Linked DNA regions of Homo sapiens: all the other regions are reported to be linked to region 7. Evidence: microRNA targets listed by miRTarBase, many of them from high-throughput screens and not tested one by one. Region 7 holds a microRNA gene; each other region holds the end of a gene's coding sequence.
Evidence for each region. The annotated mature microRNA hsa-miR-4768-3p reads CCAGGAGAUCCAGAGAGAAU and lies in region 7 at 1,313-1,332, shown strand. An mRNA with a match to its seed (bases 2 to 7 or 8) in the 3' UTR can be bound and repressed. Matches are read on the target gene's strand: a 7mer-m8 pairs with bases 2 to 8, a 7mer-A1 pairs with bases 2 to 7 and ends in A, and an 8mer does both.

Region 1: the mRNA of AGO3 is a reported target of hsa-miR-4768-3p. Seed matches in the 3' UTR shown: 7mer-A1 at 1,368-1,374 and 7mer-m8 at 1,725-1,731.
Region 2: the mRNA of EIF3L is a reported target of hsa-miR-4768-3p. Seed matches in the 3' UTR shown: 7mer-m8 at 2,084-2,090.
Region 3: miRTarBase lists SIKE1 as a target of hsa-miR-4768-3p. The part of its 3' UTR that is shown has no 7-base or 8-base seed match.
Region 4: miRTarBase lists SLC16A4 as a target of hsa-miR-4768-3p. Seed matches in the 3' UTR shown: 7mer-m8 at 493-499 and 8mer at 610-617.
Region 5: miRTarBase lists NID1 as a target of hsa-miR-4768-3p. Seed matches in the 3' UTR shown: 8mer at 1,857-1,864 and 8mer at 2,251-2,258.
Region 6: miRTarBase lists MTDH as a target of hsa-miR-4768-3p. The part of its 3' UTR that is shown has no 7-base or 8-base seed match.

The regions. Positions count from the first base shown.
Region 1 is chr1:36,055,124-36,058,221 of GRCh38, forward strand. AGO3 (argonaute RISC catalytic component 3) reads left to right here. Exons shown (of 19, transcript NM_024852.4): 18 at 1-22; 19 at 514-3,098. The coding sequence ends at 622. Among named protein-coding and RNA genes, the nearest start is that of TEKT2, 27 kb to the right of the region's middle.
Region 2 is chr22:37,888,246-37,891,245 of GRCh38, reverse strand. It overlaps EIF3L (eukaryotic translation initiation factor 3 subunit L), which reads right to left. Exons shown (of 13, transcript NM_016091.4): 13 at 1,839-2,820. The coding sequence ends at 2,782. Among named protein-coding and RNA genes, the nearest start is that of MICALL1, 17 kb to the left of the region's middle.
Region 3 is chr1:114,771,763-114,774,860 of GRCh38, reverse strand. It overlaps SIKE1 (suppressor of IKBKE 1), which reads left to right. Exons shown (of 5, transcript NM_025073.3): 5 at 489-3,098. The coding sequence ends at 590. Among named protein-coding and RNA genes, the nearest start is that of SIKE1, 7.4 kb to the left of the region's middle.
Region 4 is chr1:110,360,935-110,364,029 of GRCh38, reverse strand. SLC16A4 (solute carrier family 16 member 4) reads left to right here. Exons shown (of 9, transcript NM_004696.3): 9 at 137-1,173. The coding sequence ends at 264. Among named protein-coding and RNA genes, the nearest start is that of RBM15, 23 kb to the right of the region's middle.
Region 5 is chr1:235,975,405-235,978,502 of GRCh38, reverse strand. It overlaps NID1 (nidogen 1), which reads left to right. Exons shown (of 20, transcript NM_002508.3): 20 at 515-2,673. The coding sequence ends at 636. Among named protein-coding and RNA genes, the nearest start is that of LINC02768, 4.4 kb to the right of the region's middle.
Region 6 is chr8:97,724,250-97,727,342 of GRCh38, reverse strand. MTDH (metadherin) reads right to left here. Exons shown (of 12, transcript NM_178812.4): 12 at 1-2,743. The coding sequence ends at 2,673. Among named protein-coding and RNA genes, the nearest start is that of LAPTM4B, 50 kb to the left of the region's middle.
Region 7 is chrX:17,424,615-17,427,712 of GRCh38, forward strand. MIR4768 (microRNA 4768) reads left to right here and starts at 1,267; the gene lies at 1,267-1,340. The region is part of intron 1 of NHS (NHS actin remodeling regulator); the gene reads left to right.

The DNA.
Region 1 (3,098 bases), not on the chromosome of region 7:
TTGTGGACAAAGAACATGACAGGTAATATAAAAGCATAACAGGTTCTCACCCAAATCCCAATATTGTCTGCATGGTAGGATTTTCAAGTTCCACAAGCTATTAGCGGAGTCAGTGATCCATGTGAAAAATGATGACAGAACTGACTGCCCAAGGTTTCCTATTGAAATATATTGTCTAGGCTCATTAGTAATAGAATCATGTAGTAACTTAGTTGTTTTACTACATTAATTCAAAGGAGAGATTATTGGTAATAAAGTGATACATTCAGACAGATAGACAAAATGATACGATATCTAGGTTTGCTTCTAATTAATTCTGGGGAGGTGAGAGAAGTAAAACAAAATTGGCCTTGAGTTAATAGTGATTGAAGCTGAGTGATGGACACATAGATTGTTACACCAGTCTCTTATTTGTTAATAATTTTGAAATTTTCTACAACAAATAGTATTTTTCGGAATTATTACATCAGAATAGAAAGTTTGTTTTTGTGTTCATTGCCACTTCTCTTACAGTGCTGAAGGAAGTCACGTTTCAGGACAAAGCAATGGGCGAGATCCACAAGCTCTTGCCAAGGCTGTACAGATTCACCAAGATACCTTACGCACAATGTACTTCGCTTAAATAGTCCAAGTATATTCTCTGAGAGGAAGTACTGAAAGATGAATTGACATACAACGTATGTTTCCAGTGAAGTCAATTGAGTAAGGACACCTCCAGCCATACAGAAACCAACACTGTGTGGGGGCCAAGGTCTGATCCTTATGTTAATACAAGGAAGATTGTTTACTTCATCAAGGAACACAGCATCATTATGCAATATGAAACCAGCCAACTGCTTTTTGTGCGGTCTCCTATAGGAAGTATCGCAATTGTTTTGTTTTCATTTCTTGTAGTCTAACCCTTTTAATGCCTTTACCTCAAGTTGCTTGGCAGCACAACTATCTTTGCAAAAAAAAGTAAAGAAAAAGTAAATGATGGTTTAAAAAATACACACCTTCATGAATAATCAAAGTGATTTTTCAGAATTATGTGTGCAAAAAATTAATGTGCATTCATATATTCTTGTAAAAGGTGTCTGTGTATTTTTAAAATATATACATCCATACTTCATATGCATATATATCTAGATCTGGATTGATAATAGATATATATGTGTCTGTTATATATTTTAGAGTTCATTCCATTGGGGAATTTTCTTTCCCTTTTATTCTACCCCCACTACCGCCTTTATTTCTCTATTTCCCTTGCCTTCATCACCTACATTTTTTTCCCAGTCCTACCAGTGACATTCAAATGTTGATGTATCTGGTTCGTTTGAATATAAAATATGGCAAACTAGAATTCTACTTTTATTTTGCATACCCTACTCCTGACTCCTATCTCATACACAATTCTGAGTTCTCAACTCTTGATATTGCTGTCTTAAGAAACAAAATTTTATATATATATGTATACATACATACACAGACACAGACACACACATATATATACATAAAATAACTTTCTGTGAGAGTGCGTCTCTCCCCTCCCACTCAGAACATACATTTACCATTTGCGCAATTTGTATATAAGCAGTAGCAACCTGAACTATTCTTTTTCTTTTTTCTTTTTCTTTTCTTTCTTTTTTTTTTTTAATGAGACAGAGCCTCGCTCTGTCACCAGGCTGGAGTGCAGTGGCGAGATCTCGGCTCACTGCAACTTCCGCCTCTCGGGTTCAAGCAATTCTCCTGCCTCAGCCTCCCGAGTAGCTGGGTTTACAGGCATGTGCCACCACACCCAGCTAATTTTTGTATTTTTAGTAGAGACGGGGTTTCACCGTGTTGGCCAGGATGGTCTCGATCTCTTGACCTTGTGATCCACCCGCCTCGACCTCCCAAAGTGCTGGGATTACAGGCATGAGCCACCGCACCCGGCCTACTATTCTTTTTCTTTAGTGAGTTTGTTAAAGCTGCTATAAATATAAAACCTGTCAGAAGTTGTAACTTTCTCTCTGGTAAGTGATGTGTATTCTGAAGCCTTCTGTTTCTATGGGTTATACATGGAAATTCTTTAAAGGTTTTATAAAGGGTAAATATTTTAAAAGATTAGAGCTCTGTAGGGTTGAGACCTCTGAAATTGAGTAGAGAGAAGAGTTTGTTGAGGGATTTTTTTGTTTTGTTTTTTGATAGTTTACTTGCTGCCTCTCATACCTTAATGTGATTTTCATATATTTTTTATATATATATATGTATGTGTGTGTATATAAACACATATGTATGTGTTTGGAAGTATAGCTTCCTTTTCTTTTATATTTATTAGAATAGTGCTTTAATAATTATAGAATTGTATTGGCAGCATCTTTTATAGAAATATAATCATGTTTATTTTAAGAACTGACAACTTGTTTTTGCTATCTTTTAGTGCAATAAGCAGTTTTAAAGGAAAGTTGTGTCTGCATCTTTACCATGGATAGTAGGAGGAACAGGCACCTCCATAGTTTAAAAGGGCAAAGAATACAGCCTTAATTTCAGAAGGAAAGTTTTGTAATTTTCAGTTTTAAAGCATATCTTTTAAAATTCATCATGATAAAAGGCTGGACGCGGTGGCTCATGCCTGTAATCCTAGCACTTTGGGAGGCTGAGACAGGTATATCACCGGAGCTCAGGAGTTTGAGACCAGCCTGGCCAACGTGGTGAAACCCCGTCTCTACTAAAAATACAAAAATTAGCTGGGCGTGGTAGTGGGCACCTCTAATCCCAGCTACTCGGGAGGCTGAGGCAGGATTGCTTGAACCTAGGAGGCGGAAGTTACAGTGAGCCAAGACTGCACCATTGCACTCCAGCCTGGGCAACAAAACCAAAACTCCGTCTCAAAAGAAAAAAAAATCATAATGAAAATGAAGTGAAATTGCCTAAATGAGTCCAACTTGAATATTAGAAATAAAGTTGAACTTTTATATAATTGTGAATAGCTTAACATATTTAAATTATTTGCAAATAGATTGTGTTTATTGAAGAATCATATTGGCTAGATGCCCATTTTCATTTACTAAAATGAATCAGGAAAATGCAAGATGATATTTTAAAACTTTTGCTAATGTATCACCAGTATAACTTTC
Region 2 (3,000 bases), not on the chromosome of region 7:
CTATGGGAGGCTGAGGCAGGCAGATCACCTGAGGTCAGGAGTTTGAGACTAGCCTGGCCAACATGGCAAAATACCATCTCTACTAAAAAAATATAAAAATTAGCAAGGTGTGGTCGTGGGTGCCTGTAGTCCCAGCTACTCAGGAGGCTGAGGCAGGAGAAATGGTGCCTGTAGTCCCAGCTACTCAGGAGGCTGAGGCAGGAGAATCTCTTGAACCCAGAAGGTGGAGGTTGCAGTGAGCTGAGATTGCACCACTGCACTCCAGCCTGGGCGACAGAGCGAGATTCCATCTCAAAAACAAAAACAAAAACAAAACAAAGAAGGCCGGGCACTGTGGCTCATGCCTGTAATCCCAGCACTTTGGGAGGCCGAGATGGGTGATCATCTGAGGTCAGGAGTTTGAGACCCACCTGACCAACATGGTGAAACCCAGTCTCTACTGAAAATACAAAAAGCCAGGCGCAGTGGCTCACGCCTATAATCCCAGCACTTTGGGAGGCTGAGGCAGGCAGATCACCTGAGGTCAGGAGTTCGAGACTAGCCTGGCCAACATCGCGAAACCTCGTCTCTATTAAAACTACAAACATTAGCCAGGCGTGGTGGCGTGCACCTGTAGTCCCAGCTACTTGGGAGGCTGAGGCAGGAGAACCGCTTGAACCCCGGAGGCGGAGGTTGCAGTGAGCCGAGATCGCGCCATTGCACTCCAGCCTGGGCAATAAGATCAAAACTCTGTCTCAAAAAAATAAACAAAAATAAAAATACAAAAAATTAGCCAGGCATGGTGGCATGCAACTACTTGGGAGGCTGAGGTAGAATAGCTTGAACCTGGGAGGCAGACGTTGCAGTGAACAGAGATCGTGCCACTGCATGCCAGCCAAACAAATAAGGTCATGCTGATGGCATCCAGGGCTTAGGATATGGACATGTCTTCTTGGGAACCACCATTCAGTTCCCAATAATAATTATCAAACCAATGGGGAAAAAGAGCATACTGAAAAGCTTACGAATTCCAAGTGTGGGGAAACAGTAACTGAACATCCATTATAGGCCAGGCACTGCACTGGGCACTCAAAATAGCATTCTCATTTATTCGTCACCACTGCCCAGTGAGCCAGGTTCTGCTACACTTATTTTTTATTTTTTTTAGACGGAGTCTCGCTCTGTAACCCAGGCTGGGGTCCAGCGGCACGATCTCTTGGCTCACTGCAAGCTCCGCCTCCCGGGTTCACGCCATTCTCCTGCCTCAGCCTCCCGAGTAGCTGGGACTACAGGCGCCCGCCACCACGCCCGGCTAATTTTTTTGTATTTTTAATAGAGACAGGGTTTCGCCATGTTAGCCAGGATGGTCTCGATCTCCTTGACCTTGTGATCCGCCCGCCTCGGCCTCCCAGTGCTGGGATTACAGGCGTGAGCCACCGCGCCTGGCCTGCTAACCTTATTTTATATACAAGGAACCAGGCAGAGATGTGAGACAACTTGCAAGCAGGGGCTTCCAGTCCAAGTACCCACTATAGGGTGACAGGCATAGCATTAATACTGTGGGTAGGCAGGAAACCATTTAGCTCAGCTCCAGCAGCTGCCTAATGTGACCTTGATCAAGTCACTAACTACTGTGGGTTCATTTCCTCATCAATAAGATGAGGAACTACTACTAAACCTGAGTTGTAAGGTGTAAGTAATGTATATGGATCCCTCTTTGCACAGTTCCTGGCAGTAGGAGGTGTTCAATAGTTTCCTTCCAGGACCCAGCACTGCCACAAATATGTCATGAAAATTATAGGTCATTTAAAGTTCATAGGATCTTGTGACGCACAAACAAAATACTGAACGTGAAAATGTCCTGTAAACCAAATATACTGCTTTATGAACAAGAGGGATTTAAGAATTCAATTTAGGGCTGGGCACGGTGGCTCACGCCTGTAATCCCAGTACTTTAGGAGGCAGAGATGGGCAGATCACGAGGTCAGGAAATCTGAGACCATCCTGGCTAACACGGTGAAACCCCATCTCTACTAAAAAATACAAAAAATTGGCCGGGCATGGTGGCGGGTGCCTGTAGTCCCAGCTACTTGGGAGGCTGAGGCAGGAGAATGGCAGGAACCTGGGAGGTGGAGCTTGCAGTGAGCCGAGATCGCGCCAGTACACTCCAACCTGGGCGACAGAGTGAGACTCCGTCTAAAAAAAAACAAAAAGATTTTGAATTTAGGCGGGGCGTGGTGGCTCATGCCTGTAATCCTAGCACATTTTGGGAGGCCAAGGCAGGCGAATCACTTGAGGCCAGGAGTTCGAGACCAGCCTGGCCAACATGGTAAAACCCATCTCTACTGAGAATACAAAAATTAGCTGAGTGTGGTGGCACACGCCTGTAATCCCAGCTACTTGGAAGGCTGAGGCAGAACTGCTTGAACCTGGGCAGCGGAGGATGCAACGAACTGAGATCACGCTACTGCACTCCAGCCTGGGAGACAGAGTGAGACTCCATCTCAAAAGCACAAAATAAAAATAACTCAATTTAAACACTAACAACTGATGTATCCTGAAAGCATCAGGACACATGGGAAATGTATTACTGCCACAACCCACAAATTCTCTCCTACAATAATGAGACGACAAATCTGGCTCCAAAGATCCTTTACTGAGATCCACTTGAAACACTTCGGTCCTTAACTTGTTAACTGAGTTGACAGGCTGATGGCTGATCTAGGTAAAGGTTTCACGGTAGCAAAAACACTTCCTGCCTATAATACATCAAAACAGGTTCCTGAATGTGTGTGAATATCATCAAGGTCTCTGTCCCATCTTCTTCAGGGTTCGATTAAGCTAGAAGAGAAAGAAAAGCAAAGTTACATACGGGGATTTCCCCAACCCCTTTCCTACAGTGTGTATGATCACTAGGTCAGATTCCCAGCTGCCCCTCTGAAGCCAAGAAAGGAAGTTTCTGATGTGGGTGTCCACTATGTGTGTGCAAAGCCGTGACATTCATATGGCCCTGCACAGTTC
Region 3 (3,098 bases), not on the chromosome of region 7:
TACAGGGCACCCAAGTAGTACCCAGCTACATGCTCAATAAGTAATTTCTTTCCCCCTTTCCTTCCATTTCTCTAGAACTGTAAGATATCCAGGAGAGGAGATTAATCAGAGTGAAACGATTATTAGGAATTTTTTAAATAAAAGAAATAATAGTAAAACTGTGGGAACCAAGAAGAATATAACAGTGAATTCCTTAAATGGAGAGGACCTTGTTTTTTGTTTCTCCTTTGTAATCCTAACACTTGGTATATAGAAATTACTCAGTAAATTACTACTACAAAAGAGTATCATTGCCTACATCCTACATGTAAATGTTTGTTAAATGAATAAAGTAGTATTTAAGGAAATTCTCAACTAGTGGATTTTTTGTTTCCATAAATTTTTTAAAATTAAAATAATGTTTTCTGCTCCTGGCTCAAAATAATGTGTTGTTGTAATGCAGTTGGACAGTAAAAATACCAGAAATAAACATGCCTTTTTTTTTCCAGCTTGAAAATAAGGAACTTCGAGAATTATTGTCCATCAGCAGTGAGTCTCTTCAAGCCAGAAAGGAAAACTCAATGGACACTGCTTCCCAAGCCATCAAATAACTGAACTCTGAATGATGGCTGGAGATTGTCTATCAAGGAAGGAAGTTACTGTCTTCCCATTCAAGTACTGTCCATTAAGTGTCTTGCCTCAGATTTGATTTAATCTTAATTAAAGGTATCAGGTGGCAATTTAGAATTCCAGTCAATATTGGCTGTCCACAGTTCTCAGATGTGTTAATGTGAATACTACATGCTGAATTTCACCATTCCTTTCTCAAAGAGACTACTTTTAATTTTCATTTCTGGGACCTTGATTTATATAAACTATGTTTTCAGTTCTTTGTTATTTTTCACATCTCTGAAACTTTGAGCATTTTTTATAAGCCAGCAATTTATTTTACATAGCATTGTAAAATACACTTCTAGGAAATTTTAGGAAAGATTTAACTGTTTAAATCTATTTGGCATAAACCTTGATTTTTTTTTTCCATTTGACAAAAATAATACAATTCCACAGAACTAGATCAGCAGATTCTCTGATTTGTAATGTCATTCACCTGTGACATTTTAAGTCTCTCTGGTGCTAAGAATTGGCACTTTATAGCCTGGTGCCTTTACTTTTAATTTGAGAGAACCTACTGCTAGTCCCAGGAAACACACTTGGAAATAAGTCAGCTATTTTTTTTGCCCAGTGATGCTATAGTTGTCATATTGTCCAAAGTTCATATTGTTCAAAGCTGAGGAGCTTGTCCTGTGTATGTGAATGCACACATGTGCACTTAGTTCAAATACTAAAAGTAGCTTTTATTAAATATAATCAGCCAAAAACACACACAAAATAAAAAAAACAAATATAAGTAGTCAGTTTTTCAATGTTATCCTACTAGTTCTACATTCTATTTTAATTTTTATACAATTTCCATTTTATAGTTAAGAACCATCACTTACTTGGATTGGATGTCTTTCATTCCTAGCACTAATAGTTGGCTTTCTTTTTTTTTGTTTACATAGAAGCAGGGTTTTTTTTTATCTTTTTTCTTTTTTTTTGTTTAAGCTATATAAAAAGGTGAGGAAGCAGTTTTGTTACCTAATGAAAATTATTACACTCATAATGCTGTGTAGGCAACATTGAGATTCAAATGCCCAGTGGTCAACTGGGTTCACTCATCAACTCATTCCCGTCCCAGTTTACTCACATTTCAAATTTATAAATTTCTTCATGTTATACTATTCTATTTAGATTTGCCCAGAATTAGTTGAAATAATGCTAAACCTGTCAATATTTTCCAGTAACATTAAGCACCATACTGCATGGGAGAGACACAGTACTAAAAAGAGTTGTTAGTGCTTTATGTGAGTGATATTTCTTTCGTAATGCTATAAAGAACTACAGTTAAAATAACAAAATATTTTAAAGATGTCCTAAAAGCATCTGATCCCAGTAATAACTAATGGATGTCATCTAGAGCAGTGGGTGTTAATGAATAGGTATATGTCATTTAAGAATTTTTCAAATTTCTGTTTGATATCCTGCATAGAATTTGACAAAAAAAACACTTCCAAGTGTGAGCATTTTTTATTTCATTTCCCAAGAGTAAGTAAGTAACTATTAGCCCAGCCATCTGCCTCGAAGTATACCTTAAGTGACCCCATAAATCCATTCAAGAGGCAGGTACTCTATACCATTTGGCAGCCACGGCCAAACCTACCATGGCCAGATTTCAGTGAAAATGATGAAGTAATCAAATCAAGGTATAATATGGTGTCCCTTTATGTGCTTTATGTTCCTTTAGAGCTGTTTATAAAGTTCTTTATATCTCAAGTGTTAGGATAAATCGACATACTAACTTTTCCCCCTGCAAAATTAAAAGCCTGAGGTACAAGTCTAAGAAGCTTTTAGTGCTCTACATAATATAAATTCTGGCTGGTGTTAATGCTATGAAGATAATATGTAGTTAGAAAATTGAGTCGGGGAGGAATGCTCTTCATTTTAAGTGGATTTTAAAGTTTCTCCTTGAGTGGATGAAGAACTTGCCTGGTTTGCAAAAATCTTAGTTCAAAATTATATTTTCTAACAAAAACTGCATTTTGAGAAGATAAGCTAATTTTACTCAGTAGTAAGTCAAATGAGGAAGTGCAGAGGGTTTTTTTACATATATATAGCAACCTTGTCAAGTGGTCCTCACAAGAGTCATAAATACTTTGTAATTAGCACAGTATATTCAGCAGTGTATAACTCTACAAATAGTACCTTATATTAGTGTAGTATTATATCAATATCTTATGTATAATTCTTATATTAATACCTTATGCATAATTGGATTCAAACATTGAAGGTCTATTTTAGTGTTCTTCAAAATGTGCTTCCCTGACCTACTGAAATAGAAACTTGGTGATGAAGTTCAAGAATTTGTATTCTAATCATCTCAAACAATTCCTAAAGACACTGATTTTAAAATATCTAGTCTAGGCCCCATTGTGTAATAGTTAGCACTCTAAAAGATGAAAAAGAAAATAGTCTATGTGCCAACCACTTCATTAGTACTTATGAATTTAAAAATGAAAAAG
Region 4 (3,095 bases), not on the chromosome of region 7:
TAGGGCAGCTAAGAAGCTTCACTAAGTTCAAATGGGTCACAATACAGGAGGCTCCTTGCTTTGAGGAGCTATTCATGGCTGAGAGTTACTAATGGCAAAATTTCCTTCCCTAACAGAAATCATTCCTTCCTTCCAGGCTGGTTATATGATTATACCCAGACATACAATGGCTCTTTCTACTTCTCTGGCATATGCTATCTCCTCTCTTCAGTTTCCTTTTTTTTTGTACCATTGGCCGAAAGATGGAAAAACAGTCTGACCTGAAAGAAAGAAGACTGCAATCAAGTGAGAGCTAAACAAAAGAAAACCTAAACTAATGTCATTGGAAACAAAAGCTTGAAAGAAACACATCGCATCTACATTTGTAACATGAGAAGGAAAACAATTTTTTTTTTTTTTTTTTTGAGACGGAGTCTCGCTCTTTCGCCCAGGCTGGAGTGCAGTGGCGCAATCTCGGCTCACTGTAATCTCCGCCTCCTGGGTTCAAGGGATTCTCCTGCCTCAGCCTCCCAAGTAGCTGGGACTACAGGCACACGCCACCACACCCAGCTAATTTTTTGTATTTTTAGTAGAGGCGGGGTTTCACCATGTTAGCCAGGATGGTCTCCATCTCCTGACCTCGTGATCCGCCCGCCTTGTCCTCCAAAGTGCTGGGATTACAGGCATGAGCCACTGGGCGCGGCCAGATAAGTTTTTAAGGTTCCTTCTTGCTTTAGCATTCTGAGAAATGTCTAATTGGTAGTAAGACAAGAGTAATAGCAACCTGTATTGTTAGTATTTAACCAAATAGGCTAAAATTTTAATCAGGTACCTTATGTATTAAATAGAAATCGGAATGTACCATAATAAATCCAAACTCTCAATTACGCCATGGTAATTCAGTCACTAAAATATGTAAAGATAGAAAATTTTTTAATTTAAAGAAGTGTGAAACATAGCCATTGATTGATCAGAATTCTGGAATCTGAATATTAAAACCTTACTTAGTGACTGGAATGGTATATGCTCCCTCCAAAAGTTTATCTTTGTTTATTGATTAAAGGTAATCCTTACTTTCTTTGTATTACTTAGGTTCTTAATTAAAGGTAATCCTTACTTTCTTTGTATTACTTAGGTTCTTAAATTTCTATGATAAACATGTATTGCTAAATAATAAAAAGTATATAAAAATTGCTTTAAAAACTTCTTTATTTCAAGATCATCTGAACAGCAATTTTGCCCATCAAAGCGTTATTTTTCTGCTACATCTAATTAACAAAATATTCACACTAAATATTGAAACGTCTCTTTACAAGATTTACATGAAAGTTGAATAGGTGGTTTTAATGGGAAATATGTTTAAATTAAAAGATGTTTCTTATACCACCAACCTCCCTTAGCATCTCCTTCTGAATGCTTTTTTTTTTTTTTTTTTGAGACAGGGTCTCACTCTGTCGCCCAGGCTGGAGTGCAGTGGTATGATCTCAGCTCACTGCAAACTCCGCCTCCAGAGTTCAAGCTATTCTCCTGCCTCAGCCTCCCAAGCAGCTGGGATCACCGGCATCGGCCACCATGCCCAGCCAATTTTTGTTATTTTTAATAGAGACAGGGTTTTACCATCTTGGCCAGACTGGTCTCAAACTCCTGACCTCAAGTGATCCACCCGCCTCGGCCTCCCAAAATGGTGGGATTACAGGCGTGAGCCTCCATGCCTGGTCCAAAATGCTTCTTAAACTATTACCATCATCGTTATTCCACTCTTCCATTCCTCTCTGCTTTAAAATGTCTATTAACAACTTACAGAGAAAAACTCTAGAAGACTGGTTTTAGCTCCATACCCTGTCACTGCCTATGTATGCCTTCTCTACCAGGCACCATTTCACTTTTCACTATCTGACTCACTCAAAGGCTACCTCCTTTGGAAAAATCTTCCCCAGCATTGTCATTCTCATCTGGAATCCTATCTAACTTTTAACAGAGTACTACATGAACTCACATGTCAATCCTTTCCATTAGTCTGCAAGATCAACAAGATGAATGGGGTTTCATTCATCTTTGTATTCTCCAAGGCCTAGCATAAGCTTTGGAACCAAATTAATCTCGGTTCAAATCTCAGTTATGTTAAAAAACAGTAGTTGATCCTATTTAAATATGGTTTTTATGGCTTTCTGACTAAAGCAAAAGAAAAAAGAAAACTGGTTTTCTGACTTAAAAAAAAAGAAATATCATTTTTACATTTAGATGTGGATGTCTAATATTTTTACATTTTACATGTAAAAAAAATGAAAAAAAAAACCACCCCTTACACATACAAACAGCAAAAATAGTTAACTAATAATAAATATCAGCTCTGCCACTTGTTACCATATGCCCTCATGAAAGTTACTTAAAATTAACTTATCTGAGACCCAATTTCCTGCTCTGTAAAATGAAAATACCACCAACCCACCTCACAGATATACTGTGAGGACTAAACCCATGAAAATATACTTGTGCCGGGCATGGTTGCTCACACCTTCAATCCTAGCACTTTGAGAGCTGAGGCGGGTGGATCACTTGAGGTCAGGAGTTCAAGACCAGCCTAGCCAACATGGTGAAACTCTGTCTCTACTAAAAATACAAAAATTAGCTGGGCACAGTGGCGCACGCCTGTAGTCCCAGCTACTTAGGAGGCTGAGGCAGGAGAATCGCTTGAACCCGGGAGGTGGAGGTGGCAGTGAGATCATGCCACTGCACTCCAGCCTGGGCAACAGAGCAAGACTCCGTCTCAAAAAAAAAAAAAAAAAAAAAAAAGAAAAAGAAAATATACTTATACCAGGCAAAATGCCCTTCATATATAGTAGCTGCTAATGTCCATTCTGCTTTCATGTCAAAACAAAAAATAAAAGAAATCAATGATTTTATGAACCACTTTCATTAATTCCTTCTTCTCTTTAGAGTAGCAATTATTTTTAAAAGGGACTTCAACTACCTAGAGCAACCTGATCCTTCCTCCTAGCTAAGCAAGCTGTACATTTTAAGTGGGACCAACTAAAGAACTCCAAATTGAATTCTTAGGTTTTATGAATCTCATGCAACAGAGAAGTTCTTTATCCTACTCAATAGTAATAGGCCCT
Region 5 (3,098 bases), not on the chromosome of region 7:
TTCATAAATAAGCAAACTGAAGCAACTTGCTCCAAGTCACACAGCTCACAGGGGCAAGTCCAGGCAGCCTGGCCCTGGAGTCTATGCTATGCTGCCTCTTGAAGGCCTCTCCCCTCACCCACTTTCCTTCTCAGCTTCCCTCATCTTCTTCTGTCAGTGTGAAGCTAGGAGTGCAAGCTACATAAAAAGAACTTTGCACTTTAAAATTCCAATTCTATGTTATAATCAGAGCTGGAGAACTTCCCCCTGAGATCTGTTTAATAGCCTTAGTAGAAAATCTGCATAACCCCCAAGTTGGGAATCAGTGTTTGTGTCTGGTTTAATGCTGATAAAACAAACAATGGATCAGCTCAGCTGACTGCCTAGCACAGTGTCCCCATTCTCCTGAAGCCTTCCTAGCATGGCTTCAAGGAAACTAAAAGGGGGATCACACACAAGAAGGAGCCCACTATCTTAAATGGCTATGGAGTCAGATCAGAGAGAGGGCTATTGAACTGATTTCTGCCTTTTCCAGGCCATAACTACTGCTCAGTGAACAATGGCGGCTGCACCCACCTATGCTTGGCCACCCCAGGGAGCAGGACCTGCCGTTGCCCTGACAACACCTTGGGAGTTGACTGTATCGAACAGAAATGAAGACAAGAGTGCCTTATTTCCTTTCCAAGTATTTCACAGCAACACTCTACTTGAAGCAACTTGGTCCAGATTGAAAAGTGTCCTCTGGCTGAGTGGCCACTAGGCCCAGACCCAGCCCAGCCTGAGCCCCAACAACTTTTCCCTCACTGTTCCCCAAAACATGCACCCTGGACTTCTCTAATAGAAAAGTCTCCACCCCTACACAAGGACAGAACCCTCCACCCCTACCCCCAACCCTCAGACAGACTTATACACCCCTGAGTGAGGATTACATGCCCATCCCAGTGTCCTAGGACCTTTTCCCAATACTAGCCCCCCAGTGGTGAACAGAACCTCCCAAATTTGAGTTGCACCCTTCCCTGTGGCCTTATGAGCTCAGCCTCGCTTTGAGGTACCCACCGTCCTGTCAGCTCCTTGACCTATGAGCCGGGGCCTGACTAGGAAAAGTTGGGAGTTAAGGAGGAAATTAGCATTCCTTAATGTTTTGTTTTGGTGCTCTGAATTTCTTCTTTATTATAGTCCTATAGTTTTACTCCTCAGTTCCTCACCATCATCATCTTGTCTAAGACCCCCATTATAATATTCATGCGCTGCTTTTTCATCAAAACCTACCCTGTCCTAGAGATCTATGGGCATTTGGTGGATGATAATGAGCAGCCCCTCCCAGATAGAATGTCAATATTTGAGCAGTAGGATATTGGCATTTGTTAGTTAAAGGCTTAAATCAAAAGAATGTCCAATGGTAGGAATTTCAAGGTGTAGGTCAGATATTTGAGAATAGGGGATTTTTTTGATGTGCCTTAAATTATACCAAAGATTACTAATTATTCCTCTTTGCCCAAAATACTTGCATCCAAGGTTCTAGTCTCTGTTGCTGTGCTGGTCTTTAGCCCCACTGCTTGCACTGATGTCCCTCCTTTTCACGGAGACCTATCTGAGGTACAGGATGGGGCTGGCACCAGATGATGTCCCACCACAGTCCCTCACCTCCGGCCTCCACATGACAGAACCAATTTACACTCAACCATGACCTCACCCCTCCTTGGTTTCTCCCTCGATCTGTGGCCCTTTTTGGATGTATTCTTATCTAACAACACAATCCGGAAAGACTGAATTGAATATTTATACTAATGGTTCATATCCTTTATTGCTCAATGATCTAATTAAAGGGATCATTGCCACATTTCATGTTTATATTTCTACAATTTGTTTAGAAAACATCTCCTGACCATATCAGTAGCTCGTGTTATCTTTTTATCAACTGCTTCCCAGAGTCCTAAAACAATAGAAATTTTGGATTGAAAAGTTCAGCATAAGGAGTTTGAGTCAGTAAAGGATGGGATAAAGGAGTCGAGATGATTCAATGAAAAGTATCACAAAAAAGAGATTGATCAACAAGAGAAATAAAAAAGCCCAAGAGGAAGTGGTAGGGGAAGGAATTTAAGAACAGCAATAAGTAAAACTCTTAAGTAACTCCAAAAAGAAAATGGTACATTTTGCCAAAGACCACTTATACTTGAGAACATGGAAGAATTTGCCTGATACTCTCTTTGGGGAAAAGAGTCTCTCCTCTTTTCCTCAAACCCCAGTACACTCAGCCTCTCTGCCCCACCTTCTCCTGACTTTGTCCTCACTTGCTTCTGCAGTACATTGGAACCTGAATTGAAAGAAAGTCTTCCTTGAATAATTGGAGTTTGTCTTGAGAGGCAAATATAGCCCCAAGAATCACAAGATTCGAGGACCATGTAGGTCTTTTACGTAGCCCAAATCCATAAATTAGTCTCACTTTTTGTATTTATCGTTTCATATTAAACCCTCTATATCAAATGTTCATCATGATTTTGTATGATTTTTATAACTATTTTATTCATTTTATTAGATTTATTCTAAAATTTTTTAATGGTAAATTCTTAAACTGTGGAAACCACTGAAGGTGCTTATTAACTGTTCTCCCAGATTTGTACAAGTATTGGATGATTCCTTGAGTTTACAGCTGTACAAATAGTGTGGAAAATAAACTTTTTTTAAAAAAGAAAATCTTCCTCTATCTTTTCTGAATGAAGAGATTTAATGTTGGGAGGCTGATTCATGATAGACAGACAGACAGCCACTTAATAATCTGCAAAACCTGTGGAGCCCAGAAACTCTTATCCCAGTATTATGAGAGCTAGTATGTTTCTCAACCACAAAAAACCTTAGGGGTTGTAATTTACCTAAAAATGAGTGCAGTGTCTCACACCTGTAATCCCAACACTTTAGGAGGCCAAGGTGGGTGGATCACTTGAGGCCAGGAGTTTGAGACCAGTTTGGGCAATACAGGGAGACTCCATCTCTGCAAAACATCAAAAAAAAAAATTAGCTGGGCATGGTGGCACACACCTGTAGTCCCAACTACTCAGGAGGCTGAGGTGGGAGGATTGTTTGAATCCGGGAGGCCAAGGCTGCAGTGAGCTATGATCGTG
Region 6 (3,093 bases), not on the chromosome of region 7:
AATTTTGTAGAGATGGGGTTTCACCATATTGGCCAGGCTGGTCTCAAACTCCTGACCTCAGGTGATCCACCTGCCTCAGCCTCCCAAAGTGCTAGGATTACAGGCGTGAGCCACCGTGCCAGAAACTGTTTTTATGTCACATAAAGATCTATGAAACAAGGTAAAAGGTAATTAAAATACTTTGTGACAGAGTTTGCACCTCATGCATGTGAAAGAGAATGTAATTAATTTTATCATTTATATAGCTGCCATCTTTTTTTTTTTTTTGAGACGGAGTCTCCTTCTGTTGCCCAGGCTGGAGTGCAGTGGCACGATCTTGGCTTTGCAAACTCCGTCTCCTGGGTTCAAATGATTCTCTGCCTTAGCCTCCTGAGTAGCTGGGATTACAGGAGCCCACCACCACACCCAGCTAATTTTTTTTTTTGTATTTTTAGTAAAGATGGGGTTTCACCCTCTTGGCCAGGCTGGTCTTGAACTCCTGACCTCGTGATCCACCTGCCTCGGCCTCCCAAAGTGCTGGGATTACAGACGTGAGCCACTGCACCCGGCCAGCTGCCATCTCTTAAAACAAAATCCAAGTCCTAGCTCTTGAGCCATAAAGAAGAAATAGAGGTATCTCTATACTGGATCCACCTCAACTTAGCAACGCATCTCTGCATCTCCACAATGCCATTCTCCTCAAAACATCTGCTGTCTTTAACATCTGGCATAGGTGGTAGAATGGGGAGATACTAGGCTGCAGAAATAAAATCCAACGTTTGACAAAGCCAACAGAATTTTGAGATAAAGAAATGGTGAGGTAGAGTTGAGAGAGTTCAATTATATTGTTGAGCACAGACCATTTGGCACATTCTAAAATTAGATTCCCTATCAACTTCTCCTTTGTGGTACCTTTACAAAATGCTGACACCTTAGGAATCCTCCAACACCTATGTAAAGCTAACAGAATAAAGTCATTTGAAGAAATTCATCCTTGGCTCTTTAGCTATTATCTACCCCCATATTGAAGCAAATAAAAAACAATGCTATCCATTTGCTGAATTTATTTAAACAAGTCAATTTAGAAATACCATAGAATTAAACAAAACTTCTGACATGTAAACATACTGCCATGTTCCTGAAACAGATGTTAACACCTGATAAAAGTTAATAATCTCTTGTTAGGAAAGCTGTCCATTAATAAGGCCAGTCTTCAGCAAAACTAAAACCATTTTGTTCGTTTAGCTTTCCTAGTCTGACAACGCAATACTGTTGAACCACAGTCAAATATAATGACAACATTGGATGGATAGATCAGTACCATTGGTTACAGCTGTTAAACAGGTTCGTTCTTGGCGCCACATAAAAACAAGCCAATCACATCGAATAAATCATGGCTTTTTTTTCTTTATCACAATTCACTAAGTGATGTTAATTATGGTCCTTGTCAAACACGTTTGGTAAAGGCTATTTACAGTGTACATGGCTGAGCATGCACTATTTATAGTTACAAAGATACCTGCCAGTTTATTACAATAGAATTACACAGTGCCTGAAAATGGTGAAACATCTCACACATCATTTAAATCAATATAATTTCAAGCAGGAAACGTTCCTTATTTGACCACAATTGCAATAATTACATGAAAATTCTTATAAAAACATGAATCTCCTTCAAGAAATTGATGCATATTCTACGCACTACAGGTTAAGGCAGTAAAAAAATGTATTCCTGATAACTGGAGGTGTTGACAATGTCAATTAAAGCTGTCTGACTCTAGTTTTTCATTCTCCATCATATACCAAAAGTTTGTGAATGATTTCATTTTTAAAGTCAACAAAGTATTAGTAACTAAGAAGAGTTGAAGCTGGAAAAAAGTAATTGCTAGGGAAGGGAAAAATGTAAATTGGATTTTGCCTGAAAGTTTTCAAATCATAAACAATAGCATTATTTATGAGTCTAAGCCTTAAATGTATAAAACAAATACATATAGTTCACTTTTCTTAATTTAAAATATACTGTACTTTGAACAATTCAAGTAATGTAAGACTATCAAAAATAACTTCATAAGCCATACACAAGTGTCAACTGCATTTTCAGTATTTTAAGAACTTTTTAAAAATTGTAAACTAAACCATGACAGTTTAGTTAAACAAATGATAAATGACTTTTTATTTGCACTTGTGATTTCTTTAATACAAATTGCTACCAACAAATATGTAAAGATATGGCAGGTTATGCATTTGATCAAAGCACTTTGATTTAAGCATAAAACAGATTCAAATGGTACAAGTTCTGTGCATAAGATCCAAGGAATTGCTTACTAATCTGTAGGCAACCCTCTTTCTAATCAGAATCCTTTATTCCTCGGCTGCAGATGAGATAGGGCACAATCTGTTGTAAACAGGGCACTGTTGTTAAACCAGGATAATATTCTTAAATTAAGATCGTTCTTGTTCTATTAAAAAGACTTTCCCAAGTGTCTTCCATCACTGAGTATATTCTGCTGACCTCTTAATTTCATAAATTAACTTTCTTTTGATTCCATTTTTATGGTGGTGTCCGCAGTTTTGTTTTAAAAATTGGTTTAAATTTATATAAAACTCTGTACATGTTCACAAATTATTGCATAAACAGCATAATCTTCAAGACAAGTGTTTGCAAACACATGTCCAATTCAGGAAAAAAAATTTCACGTTTCTCGTCTGGCTTTTTTCTTCTTTTTTATTTGTTTGGGAGATTCCCAGCTAGTTTCAGACTTGGCTAAAAAAGAAAAGGGGGAAAACGAAGAAAAAAATTAGGAGGATGGTAAATACTGTTACGTCTCAATAATATAAAAGTAGTAACTATGAAACAATGTTTTAAAATACTCAAATTTTATGTTTAAGTTTTCAAGCCCTCGTTATATATTTTAAGTTATTCTATGTCTTCTTCCCTCCTTTCCTTTCAATGGTATTATTAGGTTGAACTATATGGAACTGCTGATATTCAACCAGTTTTGACCCAAAAAAACTGTTATTTAATATGGCTCAACCTAACTAATAAAAGAGAAAAATGGGTAAAATGGATACTAAAGGTAGCTGAAGAGAGTAAAGGAGGAAAAAAAGCATAGA
Region 7 (3,098 bases):
CCCTTGAGTTTGGAAGAAGAAAAGGAATAGTACCAGGTTTACTCAATCATTTGTTAGTTTGCTTGTTATCTTAAAAAATTCTATAAAATTCTTTTGAGAAGTTTCTCTGCTCATTGATCTTGAAAATCTCCTTGCTTTAGAGAATGGATGTGCTCCTCATATGCTAAGGATAAACCAGATTTTGGTAAATCAGGTTATCTTAGGGGTCCCAGGTGAGTTTGCCATTTTAACGATGCTTAGAGTGAATCCTTGTATAAGGGAAAGTATCTTGTATATTCTGTATCCTTTAGGAACTCACGTCTGTTGACTTTATCAGATGTTGGGGTGGTGGTGAGGCTAAAGACCAATAGGCGACATATGGCAGGATCTTCCCTCCAAGTGACCCTCTGGAAAGGGCTATACTTACTTAATTTTGGTGGAGCTCATCATAGGGTCAGGAAACCAGGGAGAAAGCTGAGCAACTGGTATTTATAGATCTTTCTCTTTAAATCAGGTTTGCTCATGATTTGTCTGGTCTTTATTCTTCTCCATGTCTGAAACTGAGTTCCTTGGATTCCCTTCTCTTCAAAGCCCTCTTGGCAACCTTCTGAGGAATGGCAGAGTTCATTCTGATCCACGTCCGGTGAGCGTAGCTCAACCGTGATGGAGCTTGACCTGTCAAATTCACAGAAAAATGTCCGTTACATATTCCAGCTGTTCCTTAAACATGCTCCCTAAGAGCTAGTTCCATTTGTTAGCTGTCAGAACGATGTGGAGGAATTGCTCCAGACCCTTGGATGTCATCAACCACTTTTGTTTATACACCAGTTATTTTCTCTATTAGCAAATCAATGTTTGGCAAAAAGAAAGCACAGGCTAAGAACTTTTCCTGATGAGTTGCTGCCCCAGCCTTGGAACTCTTCTCAGCCAAAAAAAAAAAAAAAAAAAAAAAAAAAAAAAAAAAAAAAAAAAAAAAAAGAAAGAAAGAAAGAAAGAAAGAAATTGAGGAGGAATTCAGTTTTACATGTTTTCCTTCCTGCTTACATGAACAGAGGAGGCCTACCTGAAGCTGAATCCAAGCACTGCCTTTGACGTTGGTAAAGATGGGGCTCTGAGCTCACATATCACCTTGGAAACTGGATCCTGTTACTGCTGGGAAAGGAATGCTTGGTTGCCAAAAGCATTAAGATAGGGAATGTGGATTCCACCTCTCAGTGCTCCTGCCTTGGATCAATTAGGTAGGATACTACCCAGAGATACAGACATGATGGACCAAGTAACTTCTCCAAACTTTGATTCTCTCTGGATCCCATGGATATGGGAACTGTGATGTCCAGGAGATCCAGAGAGAATCAGAGTTTCAGTGAGTGAAACCTAGAGTGTGTGCTGCTAGGATTTTCCTCATAAACCTGGGTGTTTTATTCTTGTGGGCCAGAAAGTTATTTCATTCCTAAACCCGTGATGTAGACTTCTCAGAAATTCCAGTGGTGTGGAGGATCCAGCTTCTATCAGCTCACAAGAGCTGATTGCACATATCTCTCCCCAACTGCTGTTCAGTGGCATCAAGTTGGTAGCTTGAAATCTGCCATGATGAGAGTATTTACACTATAGAAATTGGCAAATATGGCAAATAAGGGTCCCCACCACCCATGCTTGTGAAACATCTTCCAGCACACCAAGGAAATTATCCTAACACGTAACATCACTTATGGGGGCTGTTTAGCTTCAGGGGAGGAAATCCCCTTTGCTCTGATCTCATTGTGTGTACCTGCTTTGCATAGGCAGACTACCCCTTGTTCTCTCATCTATTAAACTCGACCTGAGAGAGAGCTTCATGAGATGGGTTGTGTGACAGGAGATCACTAGGGTAATGAGTCTGTTCCTTTCGCTGCTCAGCTATATGACAGGTTATTTTACCTCTCTAGGCCTCAGCTTCCTCTTCACTATAATAAAAGTAATTTAGATCATTAAATAATTGCTAAGTTTCCTTGTAGCTTCGACATTCTGCAATTTGATGAGTGCTTGGCTGCTGGAAAATGTCATGTGTTTCAAAGGCTTGGGGCACATGCACATCATTCACAGTGACCAGCTGAGCTCTCTCATTTTCTTTCTGGATCTTGGACTCCCAGTAATTCTACTTTTATCTGGACTTCTATCTTCAGCATGAATGAGCAGGGTGCCTCTAAGTGAGAAGCATAATTGATTAGTTCCTTCCATCTGGGGGTGTCAAAGCACTTTCAAGTCAGTAGTCAGTATCCATCATGGTTGCTCTGCAGGGAAGACTGCCTGAGAGTGCCTGTTTTGCAAGGGACATATCACAGTGGTGGACCAAGGACCCAGAATTATTGACTTGTCTTTTAATCAGAAAAGGGGCTACTTCCTGGTCTTAAAGAAGTTCCAGCTTTGAGATTAATCTGCTGTCTATAACCCCAGATCACTTGGCATGCTCGGCCTGGCTGACCTGCTGACAGAACTTGATATATTTCCCATCTCTCTGACATGGAGATAAACCTGAATAGGATTTTGCTAGTTCAGAGGATTTGGGGATACATGTTTAGGTAAAGTTTTCCTATAAAATTCCTTAAAAGAGGTGTGGTGTGGGTTTTTGTTGGGAATTGAGGCTACACTTAATGGAATGTGGAAGAGACCAAATCCACCTTTATGGGGTGCCTGGATGGAAAAGGTGTACTGATAGGAAGTTGGGACTGACCACAGACTTGGGCTGCTTTGTGATTTTGCTTACAGTCTTGCCAAGACCTAGCATCTGCCAAAATACGTGTCTCTGGGCCCTCTCTACCGAAATGTACACATTGACATGCACCAACTCATGCCGCTGTTGTTATGATTGTGTTTATGAAGCCATTTACTCTTGAATCAAGAACCTGAGTGACTTGCTGAGTGTTTGTAGGTTTATTGTCCACTCTGCCAGCTGACTGGGCTGTGTGTGTTCAATGGCTGAAGCCATGATTCCCACAGCTGAAGGTTTGGTCCATTGAGTCTGCCACCATAAAGCACAAGCTATGTGAAGGGCTGGAAAAGAAATAAATTCTTCTGGGATTAACTCCAAAGCAGAAGTACAGTTCTGTCTTGCACAGATAATAGAGGCTGGGTTCAAACTT